Linked DNA regions of Homo sapiens. The protein of the gene in region 3 purifies or fractionates together with the protein of the main gene of each other region. This does not show direct contact. Each region holds a gene or a part of one and is shown on either strand. Other genes may lie near its edges.

Evidence for each region.
Region 1: the proteins of MAP3K21 (region 3) and DCLK1 purify together in Homo sapiens (affinity purification with mass spectrometry, with the first as the bait; one large-scale study listed by BioGRID). This does not show direct contact.
Region 2: the proteins of MAP3K21 (region 3) and MAST3 purify together in Homo sapiens (affinity purification with mass spectrometry, with the first as the bait; one large-scale study listed by BioGRID). This does not show direct contact.
Region 4: the proteins of MAP3K21 (region 3) and RALGPS2 purify together in Homo sapiens (affinity purification with mass spectrometry, with the first as the bait; one large-scale study listed by BioGRID). This does not show direct contact.
Region 5: the proteins of MAP3K21 (region 3) and FAM53C purify together in Homo sapiens (affinity purification with mass spectrometry, with the first as the bait; one large-scale study listed by BioGRID). This does not show direct contact.
Region 6: the proteins of MAP3K21 (region 3) and TESK2 purify together in Homo sapiens (affinity purification with mass spectrometry, with the first as the bait; one large-scale study listed by BioGRID). This does not show direct contact.
Region 7: the proteins of MAP3K21 (region 3) and NADK purify together in Homo sapiens (affinity purification with mass spectrometry, with the first as the bait; one large-scale study listed by BioGRID). This does not show direct contact.

Annotation. Positions count from the first base shown.
Region 1 is NC_000013.11:35,806,383-35,809,882, forward strand, and holds part of DCLK1 (serine/threonine-protein kinase DCLK1), read right to left. Parts: intron 2,714-3,500; coding exon 2,636-2,713; intron 1,939-2,635; coding exon 1,842-1,938; intron 1-1,841.
Region 2 is NC_000019.10:18,104,278-18,107,777, reverse strand, and holds part of MAST3 (microtubule-associated serine/threonine-protein kinase 3), read right to left. Parts: intron 192-3,500; coding exon 160-191; intron 1-159.
Region 3 is NC_000001.11:233,334,224-233,337,723, forward strand, and holds part of MAP3K21 (mitogen-activated protein kinase kinase kinase 21), read left to right. Parts: intron 1-3,500. UniProt on the Homo sapiens protein: Negative regulator of TLR4 signaling. Does not activate JNK1/MAPK8 pathway, p38/MAPK14, nor ERK2/MAPK1 pathways.
Region 4 is NC_000001.11:178,889,244-178,892,743, reverse strand, and holds part of RALGPS2 (ras-specific guanine nucleotide-releasing factor RalGPS2), read right to left. Parts: intron 3,103-3,500; coding exon 3,048-3,102; intron 515-3,047; coding exon 437-514; intron 1-436. UniProt on the Homo sapiens protein: Guanine nucleotide exchange factor for the small GTPase RALA. May be involved in cytoskeletal organization. May also be involved in the stimulation of transcription in a Ras-independent fashion.
Region 5 is NC_000005.10:138,336,793-138,341,065, reverse strand, and holds the start of FAM53C (protein FAM53C), read right to left. Parts: upstream 2,801-4,273; 5' UTR 2,759-2,800; exon of another isoform or gene 2,711-2,758; intron 1-2,710. Other genes in the region: CDC25C (M-phase inducer phosphatase 3), read left to right, coding at 2,911-3,110.
Region 6 is NC_000001.11:45,488,364-45,492,572, forward strand, and holds the start of TESK2 (dual specificity testis-specific protein kinase 2), read right to left. Parts: upstream 2,801-4,209; 5' UTR 2,489-2,800; intron 1-2,488. UniProt on the Homo sapiens protein: Dual specificity protein kinase activity catalyzing autophosphorylation and phosphorylation of exogenous substrates on both serine/threonine and tyrosine residues. Phosphorylates cofilin at 'Ser-3'. May play an important role in spermatogenesis.
Region 7 is NC_000001.11:1,771,971-1,775,470, forward strand, and holds part of NADK (NAD kinase), read right to left. Parts: intron 1-3,500.

The DNA.
Region 1 (3,500 bases), on a different chromosome or scaffold from region 3:
TAGAACTATTGAGAGGTAAACAATTTCATCATCCTGAAATTAATGGAACTTCCTCATGAGCTCAAATGGACTTGGACCAGGAATGCTCTACCTGGGTCTTAACGATGAGTATGCTATACAATTGTCCACTCTGGATTAGAAGTTCCCATGTCACAAAATGGTTAGATATGCATTATCCAGTTCCTTACATACACAGGCTTTATAGTACCACTCGGGAAGGGGGTGATTTAATTTCATTGAGGGAGAGAGTTCACTCAGCCTTCTTCATTCAGTTTCTAACTTGGATCAGAACTCGTGAAAGTATCTGCTGTGTGTGATGCCCTTTGCAGGTGCTATGGAGGTGTAGGAGATGGTCCTATTTGTCAGTAACTGTGAGCCCTCAGATCCTGCAGTGATGGCATGGGGAGCTGGACAGGTTCCTGAAGAGCCCCCGGCCCTGCAGCTGTATCGTCCCATCTCCTTTAGCCTGCGCCTTTCTCTGACACTCCCTTTCTGGCAGCTTCCTGGACAGTTGAAGAAAATGAGAGACTTGCACTCAATATGCATCATTTTCTACACAAAGTGGTCATGTCTGAGGGGTTGGCTTTTAAAGGGAACTCACATTCAGGACATGACAAAAGCAAAGGCATAAACATTGAGCAATCAAAAGATAATTATTTCTCAAGATAATTATTGAGAACATTTTTCTCAAATTTTTAAACATTTAAGTCAGCACTCGGAGACATAAATTTTAAAAAGAGCAATGAAAAGGTTTTCCTTTTTCTCCTCAAGGTCTACAAACATCTCAATGTAAGATTTTTATAGCCTTCTTAGAAGTTGATTTATCATAAATATTATTTAATGTGGTAAAATATACATAAAATTTACCACTTCAACCATTTTCAAGTGCACAGTTCACTGACATTCAGTGCATTCACATTGTTGTGCAACCATCACCTTCATCCATGTTAAGGACTGATCTTTTAGTTTCATGGGATAAAAACAATGAACCTTGTGTTTTCCTCCCCCTCTGCCTCTAAATCCTGGCTATTATTCAAGGTTCAACTTAAATCATAGCTTCCCCATAAAGTCTTTCTTGATGATTTCAACCTACGTTGAGGTTGAGTTTTCTTCCTTCTGATTAATTGATGGATTCATTCATATACTTGTTCATTTATTCAGTATACATTGAGCACCAGTATGCTGGTCATACTTTAGGCAGGGATAGTACAGCAATGGACAAAATAGATAAAAATCCCTGCCTTCGCAGAATTTGCATTCTAGTGGAGAGAGTCTGGAAATGAACTATATAAAGAAGACATGCCTACTTATTTATATCTATCTTTTTTTGGGTAGAGAGATAGGTAGTTAGATAGCACACCAGATGGACACACAGGTGTTAAGTGTTCTGGAGAAAAATAAAACAGACAAGTAGGATACAGCAAGCCAGGTAAGGTTTAAGAGATGCAATTGGAACCAGGATGGTCTGGGAAGGCTTCACTGGGAAATTAAGTCATTAAGTCAAGAGCTGAGAGAGGTGAAACCACAGGCCATATAGAAATCTGAGCTGGGCTCAAGCCTGGCGAGGGTGGGGCACAGCAAGAGGCTATAGCAATGTCACTGGAATGGCACCTGAGAGAGATGAAGGCAGCAGATGGAGACACTTGATAAGTACTTGTTGGGATGTCTGGGAACAGATGACTTGATGACTGTGAAATCTTGGAAAACCTAGCAATTACAACTAAAATGTGTACAGAAATCATACTTATGATGTCATTAGTTTCTTTGCACACAATGATTTGGAAAAATAATTCCGTTAAGACACACAGAATATAGGGAAGAGGAAGGCACTGGACACCTACCTTTGCAGAATCGGAAACATTATCCCAGTATGGAGAAGGAAAGTCCACCTGCCCCATCAAAATCTGATCAAAAAGCACCTCCTGGTCATCACCACTTCTGTTTAGGTGAACGACAACAAGGAAAAACAGCACTAAGATATCAACTCAGTGTACATCTTTTCAGTCTTAGGCACTGGAGCCCTTCCTTTCCCCCCATAAATGTGTAAAAATGTGTATTTTTAATCGATTGAAAAATGTCAATGTGGATCTGTTTTGGTAAATTAAGAAAGAGTTTTTGGGCCGGGTGCGGCGGCTCACACCTGTATTCCCAGCATTTCAGGAGACTGAGGCAGGTAGATCACTTGAAGTCAGGAGTTCAATACCAGCTTGGCCAACATGGTGAAACCCCCATCTCTACTAAAAATACAAAAAGTAACTGGTGTGGCGGCGCACGCCTGTGATCCCAGCTATTCAGGAAGCTGAGGCAGGAGAACTGCTTGAACTTGGGAGGCAGAGGTTGCAGTGAGCTGAGACTGTGCCACTGCACTCCAGACTGAGCAAAAGAGAGACTCTGTCTCAAAACCAGAAAGAAAAAAAAAAAAAGAAAGAATGAGTTTTTAATGATATGGGGAAGAAATATGGAAGGCATATAAATTAGCATGCATGACATAACAGGGAAAAAATAACAGGGATTGCAAGTAAAGTTCTTGTGCTCTTTTCCTGCTGCAGGCTCCTTTGTGCAAGAAGGGCTAATGGATCACTCAGAGAGTAGAGAAATGCTTTGTCGGCGCTGAATAAAAGATTGTTGCCCATACCCACGGAATGGAGGGAAACCACACAGCAGGATATAAGTGATTACACCTGCTGCCCAGATGTCCACCTTGAGGCCGTATCTGGAAAAATAAGGGATGTTAGAGTTAGGAGGGTCAGGCTCGGACAAATTATGCAGCTTGGTAAAATCAATGACTTTCCTCCTCCAAGCCAAAAATAAAACCAAACAAAATAACAATCCCAACAACAAACGCTAAACTAAAACCCACCACCTAAACAGAGTTCAAAGAAAAAGTTTAAAAAATAATAATTTTAAAAAAGACCAAGGTGCAGGAATAAAAATCAAAGGAATGCATTGCTGGACTTATTTGTAAATATCAGTAAATGAAGGTTTTCAGCAAAAAGGTTTATTATAGTAATAACAATTCTGAGATAAGGATGGACCCTTGAGATAAACTCCCTCACTTTAGGAATAATAATTATTTCTAGAACGTTTTCCAATTTATAGAGCACTGACATACATGATCGTACTTTGTTTTCCTAGCAACTCTGTAGGTTGGACAAGACAAGTATTGCTTATTGTACAGAAGAGAGAAAACAGGTTCAGATGGGTGAGTAATTTTGCTTAAGATCACACAGTTAGTGTCAGAGCTGGTCCCCAATATGGTCTTCAAGACCCACCACTTCCTCCCAGCAGCAAGCAGAGCATGTCCCAGTAGAAAGTGTGTCTGTGCCCCAGGCAGCCCCACCTGAGGGAGGTCAGACAAGGCTATGGATGTGGGCTCCCACCTCATTCAAATTTGCCAAGTAGCAAAGTCCTCATTCCCTCACATCTCGCCTCAGGAATTTCCCTATTGGGATTCCCTTCTCATCTATTTGGTTTTTCTGCCCTTGTGGTCTATGGTACAA
Region 2 (3,500 bases), on a different chromosome or scaffold from region 3:
AGGTGCTTGTGAAGCACTTTGCAAACACGAGGGCAAGAATGAACATGAGATGTGTTGCTGTAATTATTAAATACATTCACAATTCAGTGGCTGTTGCTGAAATATCCACTTCCAAGACCACTGGGGCCCACCCAGCCCGCCAGTCCCAGGTGAACTCACCCACGTCCTCGGCGTGGCAGGCTCAGCTCCTTCTGCAATGAGACAGAAATGGGGATCATTCTCAGAGAGACTAGCCCTCAGAACCCCTGGCCGTTGATGCACCCCCACAATCCCCAATCCCATGCCCCAACCAATGCATCTTTCCCGCTCACTCTACACACTGGCTCAGCCCTGCCTCAAGGCCTTTGCGCTATCTGTGCGCTCTCTCAGAACAGCCTTCCCTCCCTTCTGGCCCTAATTAACTGCAGCTCATACTCCAGATCTGAACTCAACATCCTTTCTTCCTGGAGGCCCTCCAGATTCACAGTCTAATTCCCCACCCGGCTCCTACCATACCTGCATTAAAAAATATTTTAGGCTGGGCACGGTGGCTCACACCTGTGATCTCAGTACTTTGGGAGACCAAAGCAGGAGGGTTGTTTGAGCCCAGAAGTTTAAGCCAGATTGGGCAACATAGCAAGACTACATCTCTACAAAACTTTTTAAAAAAATTAGCCAGAGTAGGCCGGGTGCGGTGGCTCACACCTGTAATTCTGGCACTTTGGGAGGCCAAGGCGGATGGATCACTTGAGTTCAGGAGTTTGAAACTAGCCTGGGCAACAGAGTGAAACCCCGTCTCTACAAAAAAAAAAAAAAAAAAAAAAAAAAAAAATTGCTGGGCATGGTGGCTCAAGCCTGTACTCCTAGCTACTTGGGGGGCTGAGGTGGGAGGATTGCTTGAGCCCTGTCTCCAAAAAAAGGCCGGGCCGGTCAGGCGCAGTGGCTCATACCTGTAATCCCAGAGCTTTGGGAGGCTGAGGTGGGCAGATCACCTGAGGTCGGGAGTTCAAGACCAGCCTGGCCAACATGGTGAAACCCCATCTCTACTAAAAATACAAAATTAGCCAGGCATGGTGGTGGGTGCCTGTAATTCCAGCTACTTGGGAGACTAAGGCAGGAGAATCGCTTGAACCCGGGAGGCGGAGGTTGCAGTGAGCCGAGGTCACACCATTGCACTCCAGCCTGGGAAACAAGAGCGAAACTCCATCTCAAAAATAAATAAATAAATAAATAAATAAATAAATAAATAAATAAATAAGAAGGGCCAAGTGCGGTGGCTCATGCCTGTAATCCCAGTACTTTGGGAGGCCAAGGCGGGCAGATCACAAGGTCAAGAGATCAAGACCATCCTGGCCAACATGGTGAAACCCTGTCTCTACTAAAAATACAAAAATTAGCTGGGCGTGGTATTGCACACCTGTAGCCCCAGCTACTCGGGAGGATCGCTTGAACCTGGGAGGCAGAGCTTGCAGTGAGCTGAGATGGTGCCATTGCACTCTAGCCTGGCAACAATGAGAGATTCCGTCTCAAAAAAGAAAAAAAAATTAGCCAGGTGTGGTGTTGCACGCCTGCAATCCCAGCTACTCAGGAGACTGAGGTGGGAGGATTGCTTGACCCCAGGAGTTGGAGGTTGCAGTGAACTATGATAATACCATTGCACTCTAGTCTGGGTGACAGAGCAAGACTCTAAGTCTAAAAAAAATTAATAATAATTTTATTTAAAATTACCAATTAGTTGTATTTATGAAGAAGTATGTCAGTAGTGGCTAAAAACTAATAATCTGTTGAGAAAACAGAGATTCCTGAGTTGTCCTCTCCCTGTCCCATCTCAGATGTCCCTCTCCTCCTGGGTCTAGGTCTGAACGCCATTCTCTCCTCACTCGCTGCAAAGCCTATGCAGGTTTGGGCCCTGGGTACCAGTGGGGGCGTGGGGAGGACGGCTGACGGGTGACTCCCTTTTGAAGACCCTTTTAGAGCTCAGCAAACTGACCTGCACCAACTCTGGGTGCCCTCACCGCATGAAGGATAGAAAGCCGTGAGCTTGTGTTCCACTGTGACCTCACAGTCCATCCTCAGACATGGGCTGCCCAAGAGGGTTTTTTTTTGTTGTTGTTTTTGTTTTTTTGAGACAGACTTTTGCTCTTGTTGCCCAGGCTGGAGTGCAATGACACAATCTCGGCTCGCTGCAACCTCTGTCTCCCAGGTTCAAGCGATTCTCCTGCCTCAACCTCCAGAGTAGCTGGGACTTTTTTTTTTTTTTTTAGAAGAGACAGGGTTTTGCCATGTTACCCAGGCTAGTCTTGAACTCCTGACCTCAGATGATCCACCCACTTTGGCCTCCCAAAATGCCGGGATTACAAAATGCTGGGATTACAGGCATAAGCCACCATGCCTGGCCAAAAAACCAGTTTTTTGTTTGTTTGTTTGTTTGTTTAGATGGAGTCTCACTGTATCGCCAGGCTGGAGTGCAGTGGTGCAGTCTTGGCTCACTGAAACCTCTGCCTCTCGGGTTCAAGCGATTCTCCTGACTCAGCCTCCCAAGTAACTGGGGTTACAGGTGTGTGCCAGCATGCCTGGCTAATTTTTGTATATTTAGCAGAGACGAGGTTTCACTATGTTGCCCAGGCTGGTCTCGAACTCCTGACCTCAAGTGATCCATCCACCTTAGCCTCCCAAAGGGCTGGGATTACAGTGTAAGCCATCGCACCCGGTCAATCACGAGGGTTTATTAAATTCTCAAAATGCCATGTGGCACAAGTTTAGAATCTGGGGACACCCAGACCTGGGTCCAGTTCAATTCTCTGTTTCTTCCTGGCCATGCAAATTATTTGTATGCCCCGTGCCTCAGTTTCCCCATCTGTAACTGGAGATGACGTGAGGAGGGTTCTGGGTTAATCATGATCAGCCATTACTATTGCTGCTGTTGTGTGCTGTTGTACTATTGTTGAGCTCAGCAAGGGACCATGGAAGCTGTCATAATACCTGGTAAATGTCCTTGCATTTACTGAGCCACCTCCTACGAACCGCGGGCAGGGGCTGTTTTACTGGCAGGGAAACTTAGGTGCAGAGGAAAGCCGGCTGCCCACGTCTCTTAGTGGAGTGAGAGGCAGGAAACTGGGTCTCAGGACACCCTCCCTCCACACACATCAGGGCGGCCACGTTGGGGACACACGACTATTTTTACTTTGGTGGGCTCCAGGCTGCCCACGTCGTGATCTGGGTGTTCGCCATAGCAACCAGTGACGCCATCGGCCCCTACAGCCAATTGGAGGGGGCCGGAAGCTGCTGGGCTGCCGGATGACCCAGCTGGGAGGGCAAGGTCTCCCGGGAGAGGCGGGGAAGGGTCGCGGGGGTGTGGCGTTACCCCAGGCCTGACTTCAGCTGCTCTGCGCTCAGAAAACCAAGCTGTCACGATGGGAGGAGAATAATCTACCCCTCGAAGGTCTCTCTGACTGCTTGAATATGTCTGAGGACAGACAACTCACGGCGTTTAGTTCAAGCAGTCATGGTGATGGAACCAT
Region 3 (3,500 bases):
ACTCCTGGAGTCAAGCCATCATCTTTCCTCCTCAGCCTCCCAAAGTGCTGGGATTACATGTAAGAGACACCACCTCTGGCTCTATCTAGCATTGCCTTTAAAGTCAGTCAGATCTGGATTTGAATATCAGTGTCCTCATTTACTAGCTGTGTGACCTTGAGCAAGTTATATAACTTCATTGAGACTGATTGTCTTGATTTCTGATACTGTATTCGTTTCTTGGGAGATCTGTCAGAAGTCCTGTAGGGAAAATCTGTTTAATGTTTCTTAACCCATTAAAGCCAATTAGGTAAATACTGGCATAAAAACATATGGCTTTTTCAGGGAACAATGAGTAGTTAGGTGTAACTAGAATGAAAAGTGGAGAAAGGGTTTTTTTGGGGGGGAAGGAAACAGGCATTTCGCATGTGGTCAGGCAGTGAGTGCCATGGATGCCATACTAAGATGTGTGGACTATTTAAGAGGCAAGGGAGAGCCATTGATGGTTATTGAGGAGTAGTGTAGTATGATCTGCTGCAAGAAAACACATCTACAGAGAGAGAAACATAAGCTTGCGGTCATTGCTTTATGACTGTACTATCATAGATTGTCAGAATGGCAATAATAAAAACTAAAATAACTTACTTAGACATTGGTTTGACCACATTGTTTATCATTTACAATTCAAGCCTAGTTTTTAGCATCACAATTTGTTTACTGAATTAATTTAGACTACATTTTCTCTCTGATTTCTTTCTTTCTTTTTTTTTTTTATTATACTTTAAGTTCTAGGGTACATGTGCACAATGTGCAGGTTTGTTACATTTCTAACTACTTCCAAAATTGGAAAATATTCTCTAGCTTTACCGTGTCAGGCTGATGATCTTAACTCCAAATGTTAATGACTGTCCCCAAACTCTCTGAGGCTCCCCAAACCCTCTGAGGCAATCCAGGGCTCCCGAAAAATAGAAGCACCCCAATGAAGGAATTTTAATGGGCAGAGGGTTTTGTGGGGGACCTGGGAGAGCTGTGATGGCTTTATTTTGGAGCCTGAAACTTAAATTTGTACAGTTGACCCCTTGGCAGTGTGAATTTAGTTTTTAAAATTCATCTTCTCCAAATATTGCTTCACGTTGAGTGCTTTTAACTAAATAATAGTATTAATAATTGCAAAACCACGATTACTTGTACACCAACCTAATAGTAACAAGATGAGTTTTTAACATTTATTTAGGGCATATTAGATGCCGAGCACTACTCACAATTTATCCTCATTTATTTGTCACTACAACCTTTTGAGGTGGCGCTCTAATTATCCCCAATTTACAGGTAAAAAAAAAACTGAACTCAATGATTAACTGACTTGATCAAAGTCATTCAACCCATCAGAGGGGAGTGCTAAGAATTAAATCTGGGACCTCTGATCCTGGAACTTGTGTTTTATTGTCTCCGTATATTGCCTGGATTAACAGTTCTCAAATATTTGCTTTCAGGACTCCCAAAGAGCTTTGGTTTATAGCAATTAATATTTATCATATTAGAAATTTAAAATGATACATTTTAAAAATGTTTAATAATATGAATATAACAATAGACCCCATTACATCTTAACGTAGCATTTGTAATGGGAAAACCCCCATATTTTCCCAAACAAATTTAATGAGGATGGTGGCATTTATTTGCACTTGTAGAGTTCACTTTAATGCCAGACTTTGGGAGAAGACAGATGGATGTTCATATCTGCTTCTGCATTCACACTGTCACCATCTTAGGGAACCCCAGGGATCCCTAGACTATACTTTGAGAACCTCTAGGCTAAATGATTAGTTCTGTTGATCCAGAATGACACTCTTTAGCAGTAGTTCCCACACCTATTGTGGCGTCAGAATCTCTCTGAGAACTTTTTAAAAATAACATGTTCTGCCTCATTTTTGGATATTCTGCTTCAGTGAACCTTAGGAATAAGCGATGCATTTTTTCCCTAATATTTTATTTGGAAAATCTTGGAATATATAGAACTGACATAGTTTTAAGTGAAAATTAAAATTTTACTTAAGGCTGCGTATGGTGGCTCACACCTGTAATTCCAGTACTTTGGGAGGCTGAGGTGGGTGGATCACTTGAGGTCAGGAGTTCAAGATCAGCCTGGCCAACATGGTGAAACCCTGTCTCTACTAAAAATACAGAAATTAGCCGGACGTGGTGGTGGGTGCCTGTAATCTCAGCTACTTGGGAGGCTGAGGCAGGAGAATTGCTTGAATCAAGGAGGTGGAGGTTGTAGTGAGCTGAAATTGTGCCACTGCACTCCAGCCTGGGTAACAGAGCCAGATGCCGTCAAATAAATAAATAAATAAATAAAATAAAATAAAATAAAAAAATCCCTTAAAATTATTCACTTACAAAAATTATTTCACTTATAATCCCACTGCCTAGATTCTACCATTAACATTTCACTAATGTGCTTTAACATAGATTTAACCCATATGCATTCATTAGTCTATCTTACTTTATGAGGAAACAATAATTTTTCTTTGAAGATTCCAGATGATTCAGCAAATATAGATATACAGCAAAGTTTGAAAGCTACAGTTCTGAGGACCAGATTTATGGATTCCTTCTTATATGTTATCTGGGTTGATATAGAAATTCTTCCATGGCTACAGACTATATCCAAATCAAGTAACTGTCTGCTGATAAATGTATGGTAAGTCATAGCAGGAGCCAGGTGACAGTATGCCTGATGTATTCTGGCGTATGACTCTGGGAAAAGGAACATCTCAGAGCGTTTGTTCCTTTCACATTGGAGGACAAATGGTGTTATTTGTGGTAGTAGGTTTGAGCTCTGTCTGACTCCACTAGCTTTTTGAATAGGGTGACGTGAGGATTAAGTGAGACAGTGTATGTCTGGGGTCGGCAAATTTCTCCTGTATAGGGCCGGATAGTAAATCTTTTTGGTTTTGCAGCCCATATGGTCTCTGTTTGCAACTATGTAATTCTGCTGTTGTAGCCAAAAAAAATCCTTGACAATATGTAAACAAATGAATGTGGCAGTGTTCCAATAAAACTTTATTTACAAAAGTGGCATTGTGCTGGATTTAGCCTGTGGGCTCTAGTTTGCCAATTCCTCATATATGTCAAAGAATTTAGTAAACTGTAAGACAAAATTTAAATGCAAGCTGTTGACTATATTCATTTTAATATTTTACTTAGAAACACTTCTAAGTGTTTTACATTTAAAATATTTGTGCTTTAAATATTTCCTAATGTTGTGTGTGTGTGAACTCATTGATACCTAAACATTTTCTACAACTCTTTACAGCCTAATAACGTTACTATTTTTATTCTTTCTGCAAAATCAGGTGTCACTTAATCAGGTATTTGTTCATCTTGGTTGGAGGTGAGGGTCTTTTTAATTTGGCTAACTTGGGTGATTCCAGGCAGCCTGCAGTATGAGGAAACAGTTCTGAGCCTTGTTCCCTGCAGGTGTGCTGAGATCTGTACACTTTGGCAGGCCTGCTGGT
Region 4 (3,500 bases), about 54 Mb from region 3:
GAAATAGACTCGTCTACATTCAGGACCTGTAGTTTATCTGAAAAACTTTTTAAAAAGACAAATCAAATATAAATTTATTAGCAAAGAAAATGCTTTGATTACAACTTATGAATAAAGAAGCAGATTTTTATATTGTTCATTCAAAAACTATCAGCATTAGAAAGACTGGTGCAGTTTAAAGGCTACCAACTTGGAAGCATTTTAAAATATGTAACATTAAGATGCAAGTTTTAGCAATTAGCTCTGTGGATCAGAAAGAATAGTTGAAATTTATCTTCATATTAGATCTTGGAAAGAAAGTTTTTCTAGGTAATTTGTTTAGTTTTTAAATCAATTAGTTGAGAAAGAAAAGAAATAACGTCAGACCACACCCATGTAAGCCAATCACCAACACCATAAGGGAGTTCTGTGACCCCTGAATGCAGGGGAATTGTACCTGCTGGCCTTCATGTGACTTCGATAGCCATTTCGTGCCACTCTTGTCACCGGGCCGAGAGAATGGTATAATCTGTTCCTGTTGGATTCCATTATAAATTGTATATATTACATATACTTTTATTCACACAGTCATTATCAATACCTAGAACAGTATAATAGTTTCTTCTTGTAATATAGCTTTCTAAATCTTACAAAAGGATAGTATGTGATTGTTCCTCTTTCTTTTTTAAAGCATGCAGCATAGATTTCAAAAAATTTTTTCTTCTACTATTGACTCTAGAAATACTTAGAGGTATTTAGTACACACCATATATTTACATATACATTCACTTTCACAAATCTGCTAAAAGAATTAAAGAGCTATTTATAGCCAAATAATAAAAAAAAAACCTCAAAAATACTTCAAAAATTCTTACGTTTCTATACCACTTCTTGGATTCTAGTTTAAATATGATGCCCGGATTTATATAAGTAATTCATTTTTATTATATGTCCCTATGAAGACACCTAAAAGCAATGTGGCTTGTAAACTCATGAGGAAAACTTTATTTTCCTCTTTATCCTTTATAGTAAATAAAAGAAATGAACTGAGTAATATAGGCGTTATATTATTTCTACATTAACTGACAAAGCCAATAAATGATAAAAATGATGAGTTAATACTTATCCAAAATGGCACATAATAGTTAAAAACAAAAAAAATAAAAACAGACACATAAAAATACTGATACTTCTTTGCCTAGGAAAACCCGAAAGCACTGTTGATAAATGATGTTTTAAAGGAAAAGCATTATTTTAGCAACTTAAACAATGTATTTGATGTCTGTCTAGAAAAAAAGACAACAATGTATTTGATTTCTGTCTAGAAAATAAGACAATGTATTTGATGTCTGTCTAGAAAATAAGAACAGAAAATGGTATGTCAACATTCAGAGTACATTTTTCAAGTTCACTATCCATGAGTAGTACTTTATATCCTAGTTCTTTATTCACTTTCTATTATTTCATGTCTGAATCTTGCTGGGCAGCATTCATTTCACTGTTCTCAAAATGTTCTAAGAGCCCACTATTTTAAACTTGGCATAAGAAAAGTAGCTTTTTTTAGCCACACATGTCTGCAAAGCAAAACACCTGTTATAAAGCAAAAAAATTGTTTTGAGACGTGAAGGTAACATCATTAAATACTGTCTTCATAAGTAACCTGCTGGGATGAGAACAGATTATTTAACACACCACCATTCTGGTTAGTCATAAGTCAAGCAATCTAAAAAACAATTTGGTTAATCAATATTTTTTAAATATAAAGATTACAGTACACTCTATAATCAACTTCTCATGGTTTTACGTTCTTTCTAGAGGGAAAGACAATTTGAACAAATTCAGACAACATGTCAAAGGCAATTCTTGTGTTTTTCACATTTCAGGCAAACCCAAATGAACAGATCAGAAGTAAAGGTTGCAAGAAAAATAATGCAAAAATAAATAAAAATAATTTGTTTTTACTTATTATTATCCCGCAAAACAAAGAGAACAAAAGTTGGGAACACTGATAATTAGAGTAGAAAGGATCAAAAGTACTTTGCAATGTAGAACTTATAAACAAAATCTTAATCACATAATAGTGAGAAATCTTTATGAAGTCACATAAAAAATAAGGATCTATTTTTCCAATTAAACAGCATGAAATTTATGATTTCAAATAAAATTTAATTTAAAATTGTTTTATAAATTGTGACTGATAAGGAGTTATGCAATTACACATTTTCAACTTCAGTATTAATATGACATTTAACATTCAATCTAAATGACCCGCTTGAGTAATGAATATAGGCATTTTCAGAAATTTAGTTACTTAGTTCATATACAAAAAAGGGAGCAATTGTTTTGGTCAAAAGCCAAATACCTTATGAGTCTGAAATGGCAGAACTGAAATGGTCAGTGAAAACATAAGAATCCTAATGGACATTTAATAAATAATTATTTGCATTGTTTGGTCACATTCTTCAGATCTTATATGTACTTAGACCTCAATATAGTATGATATTTGCTACAGGCAGATGACAGATTTAACAGCTTAAAGCAACAAAGGAAGGAGAAGGGAGCACAACTTAGAGTATTTCAGTATAAAAGTGTACTCTGAAAATTTTGAGTTTATGACCATTTAAATTCTAACCTTAACTTGCTTTACTTGTATAATTTAAAATTTATTAAATCATTTTGTCCTTGACAAAGCAGCAGAGAATAAAGTTGACCATTCCACTAAATGCCTTAAAATTACTTAAATGAACCAGAACTTAAGGAAATAATTTTTTGAATATGTAAGTAGGTTACTTGTCGATGATCGGTTATTATTTTTAAGTTATAAATGTAAATGTATTAAAATTCAAATACATGTGTCATGCCACCAAATAAACATTTAGAGATAAGACTATCATTCATTCTCATTACTTACATATCCAAACTTAAATATCAACTTCTAATTTCTTTTACCAGTAGAAAACTTAATCGCTTAGGGATATGTAGTAAATATTATCTCTGAAAATTTGTATTATATTATTTAACCCAGACAAAATAAACTCCAAGTAGTTCAAATGGACAATTTATCTTACCTTTCAAAAGCAGGCCATGAGGTCTCTTCACTTAGTTCAGAACCATCGCTGCTACCTAAAATGAAAAGTTATCCTATTTTTTAAACATCAGAATTACCTCTCTAGTTTGCATTTCACAATGTAAAAATAAATTAATTAACTATGCTCATAAAATGACAATCGCATTGTAGATGAACATATCCACATATTAATTCTTTATTCTAATATTACTGCTGTTAGGTTTATTTTGCAATATATTGGAATACAGTTGACACGACAACCTAAAATAACAAAATAGCATAAAACATTTTTGCTTGCCTATTTGTAGCTGAAATTCATTATGTCAATAAACAATTTTTCCTACCATTAGAGAACATAAAATAACACAAAATTTCTTATTAGGTTTGTCATAATTTAGGACCAATATAATTATAAAATCCTTGACGATTCATGGCATACTCCTTTCTCTTTGTA
Region 5 (4,273 bases), on a different chromosome or scaffold from region 3:
GATCACAGCTCTTTCCAGCTAAGCCTAAACACAGCTTCAGAAATTATGAACTTGGCAGTCCAGATATGAAATAAAATAGAGTTGGCAATCAAGTTGAAACTTATTTGCTACCCTTAAACTGGTTCATGCTCTGTTGTTTCTAACTGGAATACCAGCACCACTTAGAAAACAGCTGCTCAAGTGAGAGAGAGGGATGCCCAAATGATTATTTCCATCAAGATCAGCCCAGTATTTTATCTTCCAGTCAGAAGTGAAAAGAGGTACCCTTCTCCTAAACTACAGAAATAGTAATAAGAGAACAAGGAAGAACAGTGGTTGTAGGCAAGACTTTCTGCTTTAGACCTGAGTACATAGGATTTTATGTCCTCCCACAGCCTAAACATCTGATATATTATTGTTTTCCAATAGATACAGTGTTTGTTTTCTTATCAAATGGGAAGATAAAGAAATGGTCAGGGTAATTCCAATACATTTCAACTCTACAGACGTCGTAAACAACAACTCCATGACTGTTCAACTAAGTTTTTAGCCTCATCTGATGCAAAGTCCATGGATACAGTTAACCAAGATTCTTTCTCGTGGTCAACTTCTGATAGAAGCAAACTAACTGTATCAGATAACAGGCTTCAAGCCCACACAATTACCTGAGGGGCCTTGCTCAAGGGAAAAGGGGAGGTTAAGCCAGTGTCTTGATTTTGTTCTATCTATTCCCGGAAATGAGCAGCAAGCTGACAGCTTACCAGAGAATGTGTGTAGCATTAGCTAGTCAAGAGAACAAATCATCAAGAAATCTAATTATTAATCCAATTTGCTAAGAGTTTTGACAAATCATTTAATACTCCTTGGCCTCAGTTTACCCATATGTAAAGTGGGCAGAATAATCTTAACCTGTCACAGGAACAATATAACATATTAAAATGTACAAAATGTACCATCTGACCTATAAAAATCAGGAGTCCACACAGACTACCATTTCTCGTTCCCGTTTGTGAATCTTCAAGGCCTCAGAATGTCAGAAGTAATGAAATCAATAAGATGAAGAAGGCAATAGGGTCCATCTCTCTGGCTGAATACCATCCTCCCTCACCTGCACACTAAGAAAAGCCCAAGAGGGCTCTTCCTTCTGTGACCTTGGGGGCAGATCACTCTACAAAAAAGAGGAATTATCTCTACCCCACTCACACCTTAGAAGGAGGGCACAAGGAAGAGCAAAGAGATAAACCTGGATGTACCTGGAGTTCTCTGGAAGAAAGGTGCAAGAGAAGTCAATCATCATTACAGTTAACTATCATTTTCATGCATAATTATTACCACCCTGAACAAAATTCTAGCTTCCGGGGAGCTCTCTTCAGCTGCTTCCCCTATATTCTTACGGGAGAAGCTAAAGCTTATATCACTTCTGCTCTTGGTTTCTTAACTCTGCTGCCCTCAAAGATCAACCAGAGAGGGAACCTAAGTGCAGGATTTTACCCTAGAGACCCCAGGCCTCAGGCTAACCAGCTATGAGGAGCAGGGAATGAAGCAAACTCTCCAGCTTTTCATGAGGCATTTGGACAAACAGCAAACTCCCAGCCACCTCTAGGATCAAGTCAAGACAGTGAATTTGTGTTTTTCTGCATTTTAATTGTTGGGATGTGGCCACACACAGTGGTAATTGGAACAATGCAACTACCACCACGCAACTGATACTCTCAGCCTGAGTTTCCTAAAACAGGCCAGGCTGCGAGGGGGAACAGAACGGAAGCCATAAGGAATCAAACCAGGACACAAAAGAAGGCAAACCAGCTCCGCGAGGGGCCTCCTCTTTCTCAAGCAGGCATTGAAAAAAGTGTAAGAAGCCCTCTCTTGCCGCCTTCCTTCCCCTTCCATTTTGTGTATCTGAAGGGTAGAGACAGCCCTGAATATTCACTAAACAAGTTAAAACTTCTCAGTTTAACAACTGGCACGGGGCTCAGCCCTTCACAGAGCAGCAGGCCGCTAGGCCCTCTCAGCAACCCCACCAGACCTAACTCTCAGTCCAGGCTTTCCCTCCACCAGCAGCCCCCAAAAATAAAGATCAGACCCCCACCCCATCTCCTATTGGATGGCAGTAACCCCTGACACTCCTGTTTCAGGGATGCTGAGGTTGTGCTGTACCAAGACAAGGTAGGATCAGGTCAGGCCAACAGGGAGGAGAGTCACAAACCCTTTGGGGACCTTCCCCTCAGGTCCCAGCCCCACACCTCCTGGGGAGACTGAAGAAAAACATGAGGAAGGCAGGGAGCTGCATGAACAGGTAGGTGGAGATCTGCCTGCTCTTCTTCCATATGGTTCTGGTGGGGAAAGGGGTGACAAGTGGGGAACACCCCTCCCCCCACCCCCATGAAGAAGCAAAAGGCTAGGCCCCTCCAATCTTCAACCTCTCCCTCTGTTGCCCTGCCTGTCCCCGCGGGGTGGGGCATGGGGCGTCCGCTGGTCCCCGGGGCGGGGGGGGGGGTGCGCCAGGGCTCGCTCAGGGGGGCTGTCGTTCGCCTCTTCCCACTAGGTTCCATCATCTGGCCGCGGGAAGCGAACTCAGGACGCAGGGGATGGGGAGGGTCTGGGACTTAGCACTCCGCCACCCCCTCCCCCACCGGGTCCCGTGCTCTCCCCGCAGAGGCGGCCAGCGAGGCCCGGCCGCGCGGGCGGTCGGGCTGGGGGAGGGGAAAGAGGGAAGGAGGGAGGGACGGTTGAGGTGCCCGCCCCGAGGCCCCAGCGCCACCTGCCCTCCACCACCTACCGCGGTTCCTCCAGCTCCCAGGGCCGCGGCCGGAGCAGCTCTGAGCGCTCGGTTCGCCCCACGGTGCCCTTAAAAGGCGCTGGCGCGAACCAACGAGTCCCTGAGGAGAGTAGGGGGACAGCTCCGGCTCGCAGAATCCCCCCAAGCCACCCATGGAGGGCGCAGCTCCGTGTCGTGTCTCTCTCAAAGTGTCTCTCGGACAGCGCTGTTGGGAACGAGCCTGGCGCTTTGATTTAGGGATGGGGGTGGTTTCCTCACTAACGAGTCACCCCCTCCAAAATATCGCAGAAAGTGGACGGCCCCAGTTGGAGGCACATCTTGAAACCCGCGGGGGAGGCCATGTCGGAAGAAGGTAAACAAAGGCATCGCCCCTGCCCTCCCTCCCTCCAACGGCCCAACTGCAGCCTCCCACTCGGTTCGGGCCGCGTCACGCAATTAGCCACAGTGCCCCTCACCTGCTCTGCTGCCCCGCCCTCCACGACCACCTCTTCGAAGGAATCCCCCTTCCCCCAGCAAAGGACCCGTCCGCGGCGTGAAGGCTGCTGGGAAGTGTGGTCCAAGCGCGGATTAGGGCCTGCTCGGAGTCCCAGGAGCCCCTCTTGCAGCTGCCGGATCGGCCTGAACCTTAAAAACCCAGGACTTATAATGGTTGCGGGGACGTTTCCACTTGGTTCTGTAATTTGCCCTCACCCAGAACACTTTGTAAAGCTCAGGATAGCCCAGGGCTGTTCACTCCCTCTCTTCTCTCTCCGCCCCCTCCCCCCCAGCAGGATGAGGTAATGGGATTGTGATTATGACATCATAGGCGGTTCAGTTGCTTGCGTTTGCCTGGGGGGAGGTGCGGGGAGGTGGGGAGAAGTGCGGTGGTTAGACTTTCCTTAAACAGAAAGGGAAGGAGGAAACAGGCAGATGGGGAAAAGATGTTGACGGCGCTATATTTCCACTTCAGGAAGACAAAACCACCTTTTATTAAGTCTCCACCACTACCACCACCTCCCACATGAGCCAAAATTTAAGTCTTTTTTAAAGAGATTGAATGTAGACGTTAGTGTGTGAAGAGGTTGGGTTGATGGTTTCTGGCTCTTATGTAAATTCGAGTCTCAGCTAGCATCACAGATGGTTTAGGGAGACAAGCAAAAAAGTGGATAAAGGAGAGGCTTTAAACAATGCGTTCGTGTTGTGATCTCTTTGTAATACAAAGTTTTCTATTTCTTTTTTTTAATTGATTGGAAAGTAGCAGTAATGCAAGTAATCTTCACTATTACACTTAGCAGCAAGTCCTCTGAAAGACATCTGTTTTCTGTAAATATTTTGTGCCTTACTCAAGACTGGGACAGGTAAATAGCTGTGATCAGCTGGAAAGTAGAGCCAGTGGCGGGGGTCGTCCTCACTGAGCCAGGGAGGGGAGGAGGCAGGAGCCACCAAGTCTACAAACTGAAAAAGAGTAGAGGAAAAATGAGGTACAGTACTAACTGAGAAAATAGGGGTGGAAAGATTTACCTTGCACTGCTTATT
Region 6 (4,209 bases), about 190 Mb from region 3:
CATCTGTTAAACTCCCTCACTTTCCTTCCCTTCTACCACATCATTATCCATTTTCACTACTATCCTTTTGGTGTCAAAGGGCAAAATGCCTGACTGACATATTTCCTAGATGAACCTTCCCCTCACTTACAGAACTGTTTCACCTGTACTGAAAAGAAAAACACACATGTGCCATAATGGAAAGAACACAGGTTTCAGAACTAGACATACCTGCTCAAATCCTTGTCCACAGTACTCTCCACTGTAAAAGAGGGATACTGACATGTTAACCACAAGGCTGTTGTGATCTATAAAGCATCTTTATGTACCTGGCATATAGTATATTCTCAATAAAGATGAGTTTCACTAGAACCAGCTCTCCTTCACAACCAAACTCTGGAGAATAATTTTACTCATTTCTCCTCATTTATTCCTCAATCCATCATGATCTCACTACTACCTTCTTTGCCATCCCCACCCTACCAAAACTGCATTTCAGAGGAAACAAGTGACCTCCTGATTGCTAAATATAGGGCAGGCCAGGCATGATGGCTCACCCCTGTAACCCCAGCTCTTTGGGAGGCCGGGGAAGGCAGATAGCTTTGAGCTCAGGAGTTCGAGACCAGCCTGGGCAACGCAGAGAAATCCCGTCTCTACAAAAAATACAAAAAATTATCTGGGTGTGGTGGCTCCTGCCTGTGATCCCAGCTACTCAGAAGGCTGAGGTGGGAGGATCCGAGACTGCACCACTGCACTCCAGCCTGGGCGACAGAGTGAGACCCTGACACCAAAGAAAAAAAAAAAAAAGCTTCTTAACTCTCATTCAGCTGGACCTCGAAAGCACGTGACATTGATAGTCACCGCCCCCCACTCCCTTCTTGAAATCCTTTCTTTGGCTCCTATTATAATGCTGTTATGTTCTAGTTCTTGTCCCGTTCCTTTAATCTCTCTTTTTCAGTGTCTATTACCTTTCAAACAATGATGCTCCTTCTGGTCCACAGCCCTTCTCATCTTTCAGTATTACCATTCCATACTAAGGCACACAAATATCCCCCATATATTCTCTTGACCCTCCAAATTTATGTATCCAGGTCCAAGCTTTCTCCCAATTTTCAGACCCAAATTTCCAGATACCCACAGTGATATTTCAAAACACCTCAAACTCGGCTGGGAGCAGTGGCTCACGCCTGTAATCCCAGCACTGTGGGAGGCCGAGGTGGGCGGATTGACTGAGGTCAGACGTTCGAAACCAGCCTGGCCAACGTGGGGAAACCCCGTCTCTACTAAAAGTACAAAAATTAGCCGGACGTGGTGGCGCATGCCTGTAATCCCAGCTACTCGGTAGTCTGAGGCAGGAGAATCGCTTGTACCTGGGAGGAGGAGGTGGCAGTGAGCTGAGATCGTGCCACTGCACTCCAGCCTGGGTGACAGAATGAGACTCCGTCAAAAAAAACAAAAACTAACAAACAAACCCTGAAACTTAACTTGTTCAAAACCAAATTTATTACCTTCTCTCAAAATTGCTTTTTTATGCTCCCTATTTCAGATGAGATCAGGAGCGTTGAGGGTGGTATAACCAGAGACTATGTTCCCTATTTCAATTAACACTACCGATTCACACCATCAGCCAAGTCAGAAACTTTCTACTATTCTTCTCAACTTTATTTTGAAACCTCTTGGAATTTCGGGCCATTCCCTCCCGCCTGGATGAGCACACTCGTTTTCTGCCTACCTGGCCTTTCCGCCTCCACGGTCTTCACTTTCAATCCTTCCTCTATATTTTCACCAAAGATAATGCAATCATACCAAGCTCCTGCTTACAAAACCTTCAACGGCTCCCCATGCATGCAGCATGAAGTCCAAATTCCTCAGCAAGTTCTTCTCAGAGGTATACAATTTAAAGACTTTTAAATTACGCAAACCTGGATTTCGCTTGTAGCGAAATCTGAACACTGGCTTAGTCCACTCTTCACAGCGAAGAGTAAAAAGCAGAGAGGGGAAAGGAAGGGAGACGATGACAAGCGAGGAAAGAAGAGGGGGAAGGCAGTAGGGTCTGAGGGGAGGGAATTGTTTTCCTGGGTAGAGGTGAACGTTTTCGAGGGAAGAGTGTATCGGAGGGAAGTCAAGTGAAGGAACCCAGATCTCTGAGGCAGGAGCGGGTATGCGAGCAGGGAGGCGCTCAGTGGGGAGCTGGAAGTCTCTGAAACAAGAGTTTTCCGAGAAAACGAAAGATCCCTAATGCGAGCGAGGTAACTTCTAATGGGTTCCCAGGTTCTAAGGGGGAGCAGACGTGGCGGGGAGCCTGAGGGAAGTGAGAAGGAAAGGGGAAAGCGGCCAGGAAGGGAGCGTCCGCCGCCGCTGAGAGGGGGACCTCTGGGAAGCCGAGGGGTCCCGTCGGGTGCGGAGGGACGCAGGCGCCTCTGCTCCGGGGCAGAGGAGGTGGAGCGGCAGCGCGCGCGGGCCAGGCAGGATGCCCGGGTTTGTGACCCCCGTCCTCTTTTCACGTTACCTGAGGCAGGACTGAGCAGCCAGAGGGGTGCCTGCGCGGGCAAGAGGAGGAGACGGCGGCAAAGAGGGAGCATAGTAACCCTCACAGCTCGTTGGTGGCAGCGGCTCCTTAGCCTGCGGAGGCGGTGGGAGCCCCTAGCGCAGAAGCCGGCGACTCAGCTAGGCTAGCGGCGGCGGCGAACGAGGAGACTACTGCCATGGCCCCACAGTCGGGGCCGCTCCCCCCGCCTGTTTGGCGGGGCCAGGAGGACGATCCGACCAGCGAAGCCAACAGGGCAGCTGGTAGCTCTGCTGAGCTCCCGGGCCGCGAAAGACTGAAACGCCTACCCGGCCCAGCAGGGGGGTTGGGGGCGGGGTCTCGGCTGGCCACGCCCCTCCCTCAAGCCCTCCCTCAGAGTAGCCAGTCAACCGTCAACTCCTGATAAACGAGGTAGTGGAATTGCCCAATTAGCGCTAGGAATGCCACGTGGTATGAGGGTGGGCACAATGGGCGTCCAGAAAAGCCAATCAACAGCCGTAGGTGCCAACTCCGGAGGACGAAGGGAACCAATAGGAAGGAAGTCGAGGTAAAAACAGAAGAAGCAGTGTGTGGGAAAGGCGGAACCGAGGAGGAGGGAATACACCTGGGGGAAACCCAAGTCCAGGAGCCTCTTAGAGGGCGGGGCAGTAAACACAAGATGGACCAATAAAAATGTTAAACACAGAAATGATTGGTAATTGATAAAGCCAATAGAAAATGGACTAGACTGGCGCGGCTTTCGGGTTGGTCAAGGTATAGCTGAGTAAGGAAAAGCGGTAAGAATGCTGCGTCCTGCAGGATTTCAGTATAGTGAGGAGGAAAAAATATATCAATAATACCGACTTGAAATAGTAAGAGCAATCAGTAGAGCTAAACAAAATGCTAGGGAAGCAATTAATCATGACTATGAGATTCGGTTAAGTGAAAGCTTAGAGGAGGTAACACTTCAGCTAGCTTGAAAACAGATTTTGAAAGAAAGCTGGTGGGGAATAAGTTGGGATTTTTTGTTGTTTTTGTTGGTTGTTTTTTTTTTAGAAGGGTCTCACTCTGTCGCCCAGGATGATGGAGTGCAATGGAGCGATCATGGCTCACTTGCAGCCTCAAACTCCTGGATTAAGATGATCCTCCCAACTCAGCCTCCCCGGATAGCTGGGACTACAGGCACACGCCAGCATGCCTGACTAATTTTTTGTATATTTTGTAGAGACGGGGTTTACCATGTTGCCCAGGCTGGTCTGTAACTCCTGGACTCAAGTGATCGGCCCACGTTGGCCTACGAAAGTGCCGGGATTACAGGCGTGAGCCACCGCTCCCAGCTAAGAATTCTGCCCAGCTGTTCAAGGCACATATTTCTTCACTTTTTGCATGTGCCTGGACATCAGGAGCTCATAATCTCATGACTGAAGAGACTAGAACAGGAGGAGGGCAAGAGCAAGCAGTATGGGCCTTACTGTATTAGCACTCCCAGGGGTTAGAGACCCCTTTTCAGACATCTTAAGACTTTCATCCTCCTGGAAGAGTATAAGTGGTATGCATTCCTGGTGGCCATAAAGTTTAAGAAATATGGCCAGGGCCGGGAGCAGTGGATCACGCCTGTAATCCCACCACTTTGGGAGGCCGAGGCAGGGGGATCACGAAGTCAGAAGATCGAGACCATCCTGGCAAACATGGTGAAACCTCGTCTCTACTAAAAATAGAAAAAT
Region 7 (3,500 bases), about 230 Mb from region 3:
AAATTTTTTTTTTTTTTTGGTGGAGATGGGGTCTCCCTATGTTGCACAGGCTGGTTTCAAACTCCTGGTCTCAAGTGATCCTCCCACCTTGGCCTTCCAAAGTGTTGGGATTACAGGCGTGAGCCACCTCACCCAGCTGGAAAAAGTCTTAGTGGTGTTTAAAATCTTTTATACTTAATGGAACCCTGAATTTTTTTTTTTTTTCCTGTTTTAGGCAGGGTCTTACTCTGTCCCCAGGCTGGAGTACAGTGATGTAATCATGGTTCACTGTAGCCTCTACCTACTGTGCTCAGACAATCTTCCCACCTCAGCCTCCTGAGTACCAGGGACTACAAGCATGCACCACCATGCCTGACTAATTTTTGTATTTTTTTGTAGAGATGAGGTTTTGCCATGTTGCCCAGGCTGACCTCGAACTCCTGGGCTCAAGCAATCTCTCTGCCTCAGCATCATAATGTGCTTGGATTACAGGCATGAGCCACTGTGCCTAGCCAAAACACTGTTAAGAAAATTAAAATACAGTTGGGTGTGGTGGCTTGTGCCTGTAATCCCAGCACTTTGGGAGGCCGAGGCGGGAGGATCGCTTGAGTCCAGGAGTTCAAGACCAGTTCTGTGTCTTGCTAGTGGTTATATAATTAATTTAAGAGGTAACACTGCATAGAGCCATACACACATGTAAAACTGGTGAAACCTGAATAAGGTCTATAGTTTAGTTAGCAGTATTTCAATTCCCTGGTTTTGATATTGTACTATGGAGGTGTATGGAGGTGTAAGATGTTAACACAAGGGCCGGGCATGGTGGCTCATGCCTGTAATCCCAGCACTTTCGGAGGCCAAGGCGGGCGGATCACCTGAGGTCAGGAGTTTGAGACCAGCCTGACCAACATGCAGAAACCGCGTTTCTACTAAAAATACAAAAAATCAGCCCGGCGTGGTGGCGCATGCCTGTAATCCCAGCCACTCGGGAGGCTGAGGCAGGAGAATCACTTGAACCTGGGAGGGGGAGGTTGCGGTGAGCTGAGATCACGCCATTGCACTCCAGCCTGGGCAACAAGAGCCAAACTCCATCTCAAAAAAAAAAAAAAAAAGATGTTAACACAGAGGGAGCTGGTGAAGGGCACAGGGGTCTCTCTGTACTATTTTTACAACTTCCTATGAATTAGTCTATGATTATTTTTTTTTTCCCCAGACGAAGTCTCGCTCTTGTCCCCCATGTTGGAGTGCAATGGCGCAATCTTGGCTCACTGCAACATCTGCCTCCAGGGTTCAAGCAATTCTCCTGCCTCAGCCTCCTGAGTAGCTGGGATTACAGGTGCCCGCCGCCACACCCGGCTAATTTTTGTATTTTAAGTAGAGATGGGGTTTCACCATGTTGACCAGGTTGGTCCTCAAACTCCTGACCTCAGGTGATCCGCCCGCCTCGGCCTCCCAAAGTGCTGGGATTACAGGTGTGAGCCACCGCACCCAGCCAATTATTTCAAAATAAACAGTTAATAAAGGTCAGACACAGTGGCTCACACTTGTAATCCCAGCACTTTGGGAGGCCGAAGCAGGGGAATCACCTGAAGCCAGGAATTGGAGACCAGCCTGGGCAACACAGCAAGACCCCGTCTCTACAAAAACATTAATAAAAAATAAACAAATCAAAATCACAAAATGTTAAAAAAAATGTATTATTACTGCTACATTACCTAGAAGCTCTATTTTGTGTGTGTGTGTGTGTGTGTGTGTGTGTGTGTGTGTGTGTGTGTGTGTGTGTGAGAGAGAGAGAGAAATAGAGATATTGAGAGACTGAGAGGTAGGGTCTTGCTCTGTCACCTAAGCTGGAGTGCAGTGGTGCAATTACAGCTTACTGCAGCCTCAATCTCCCAGGCTTAAGGGATCCTCCCATGTAGCTGAGACTACAGGCATGAGCCACTATGTCCAGCTAATTTTTAAATTTTTTGTAGAGACAGGGTCTCGCTACCTTGAACGGGCTGACCTTGAACTCCTGGGCTCTGGTGGCCCTCCTGTGTTGACCTCCCAAAGCATTGGGATTACAGGCATGAGCCACTGCACCCAGCCTAGAAGCTCTGTTCATATTTATTTGCGAAGATCAATTTGATGACTAAGCAGTAAACTAATTTATAAAATAATATTAAATATTAAAACCAACTTTAAACAATTATCTTCACCTATGTATGTGTGTGTGTGTATATATATACACACACACACACACATATATATATATTTAACAAGTATCTCCAATACCACAACCAGTGTATTTTTTGTTTTTTTGAGATGGAGCTTCGCTGATGTTGTCCAGGCTGGAGTGCAGTGGCGCGATCTCGGCTCACCGCAAACTCTGCCTCCCAGGTTCAAGCAATTCTCCTGCCTCAGCTTCCCAAGTAGCTGGGACTACAGGTGTGCGCCACCACGCCCAGCTAATTTTGTATTTTTAGTGGAGACCTGCCTCTTAATTCTCCAACATGGAGGGGTTTCTCCATGTTGGTCAGGCTGGTCTCAAACTCTCAACCTCAGATGATCCGCCCGCCTTGGCCTCCCAAAGTGCTGGGATTGCAGGCGTCGCCACCGCGCACGGCCACCATTATGCCTCGGCCTCCCACAGTGCTGGGATTACGGGCGTGGCCACTGCGCGCGGCCACCATTGTGCCTCGGCCTCCCACAGTGCTGGGATTGCAGGCGTGGCCACCGTGCGCGGTCACCACTGTATTTTTTGACAAGGGTGAGTCAGGACTGACACTTAATTCATTTGTTTGATATATTAACTGCTTTAAAAGGACACACAATGCTAGCTGCACCAAAGTGCATTCAAATTCCTCATAGCATGAATCTAATTTTAAAAAACCTTTGTAGGGCGGGCATGGTGGCTCACGACTGTAATCCCAGCATTTTGGGAGGCCGAGGCGGGCAGATCACGACATCAGGAGTTCAACACCAGCCTGGCCAAGATGGTGAAACTCCGTCTCTACTAAAAATACAAAAAAAATTAGCTGGGCGCGGTGGCAGGCGCCTGTCATCCCAGCTACTCAGGAGGCCGAGGCAGGAGAATCGCTTGAACCCAGGCGGCAGAGGTTGCAGTGAGCTGAGATCACGCCACTGCCCTCCAGCCTGGGGGACAGAGTGAGACTCCGCCTCAAAGAAAAAAAAAAAATCCTCTGTATTAGGAAGTTTTATTAGAAAAAAATACTAGAGCACAATAAGAAAATATTCATAACGAACTTATACAAAGTAGCAAGGAAAACATTAAGATGCCAATAAATAAATGTGCAAAGAACATGAACAAAAGTCACACACACACAAATACAAACATAATACACGAGTTCGTTCCCATGTAAGAACTCAATCAATATTTGTTGCAAGACTAAATGAAAAAGGAAAATTTATTTAGTGACAGAAATGGGGAAACATTCAACCTCAACCCTGAGTGGGAAAAAACTTACTGCCCACTAAATTACCCATCTCATCTCACCCCGGTAAATAATGCCCAGTGCTGGCAT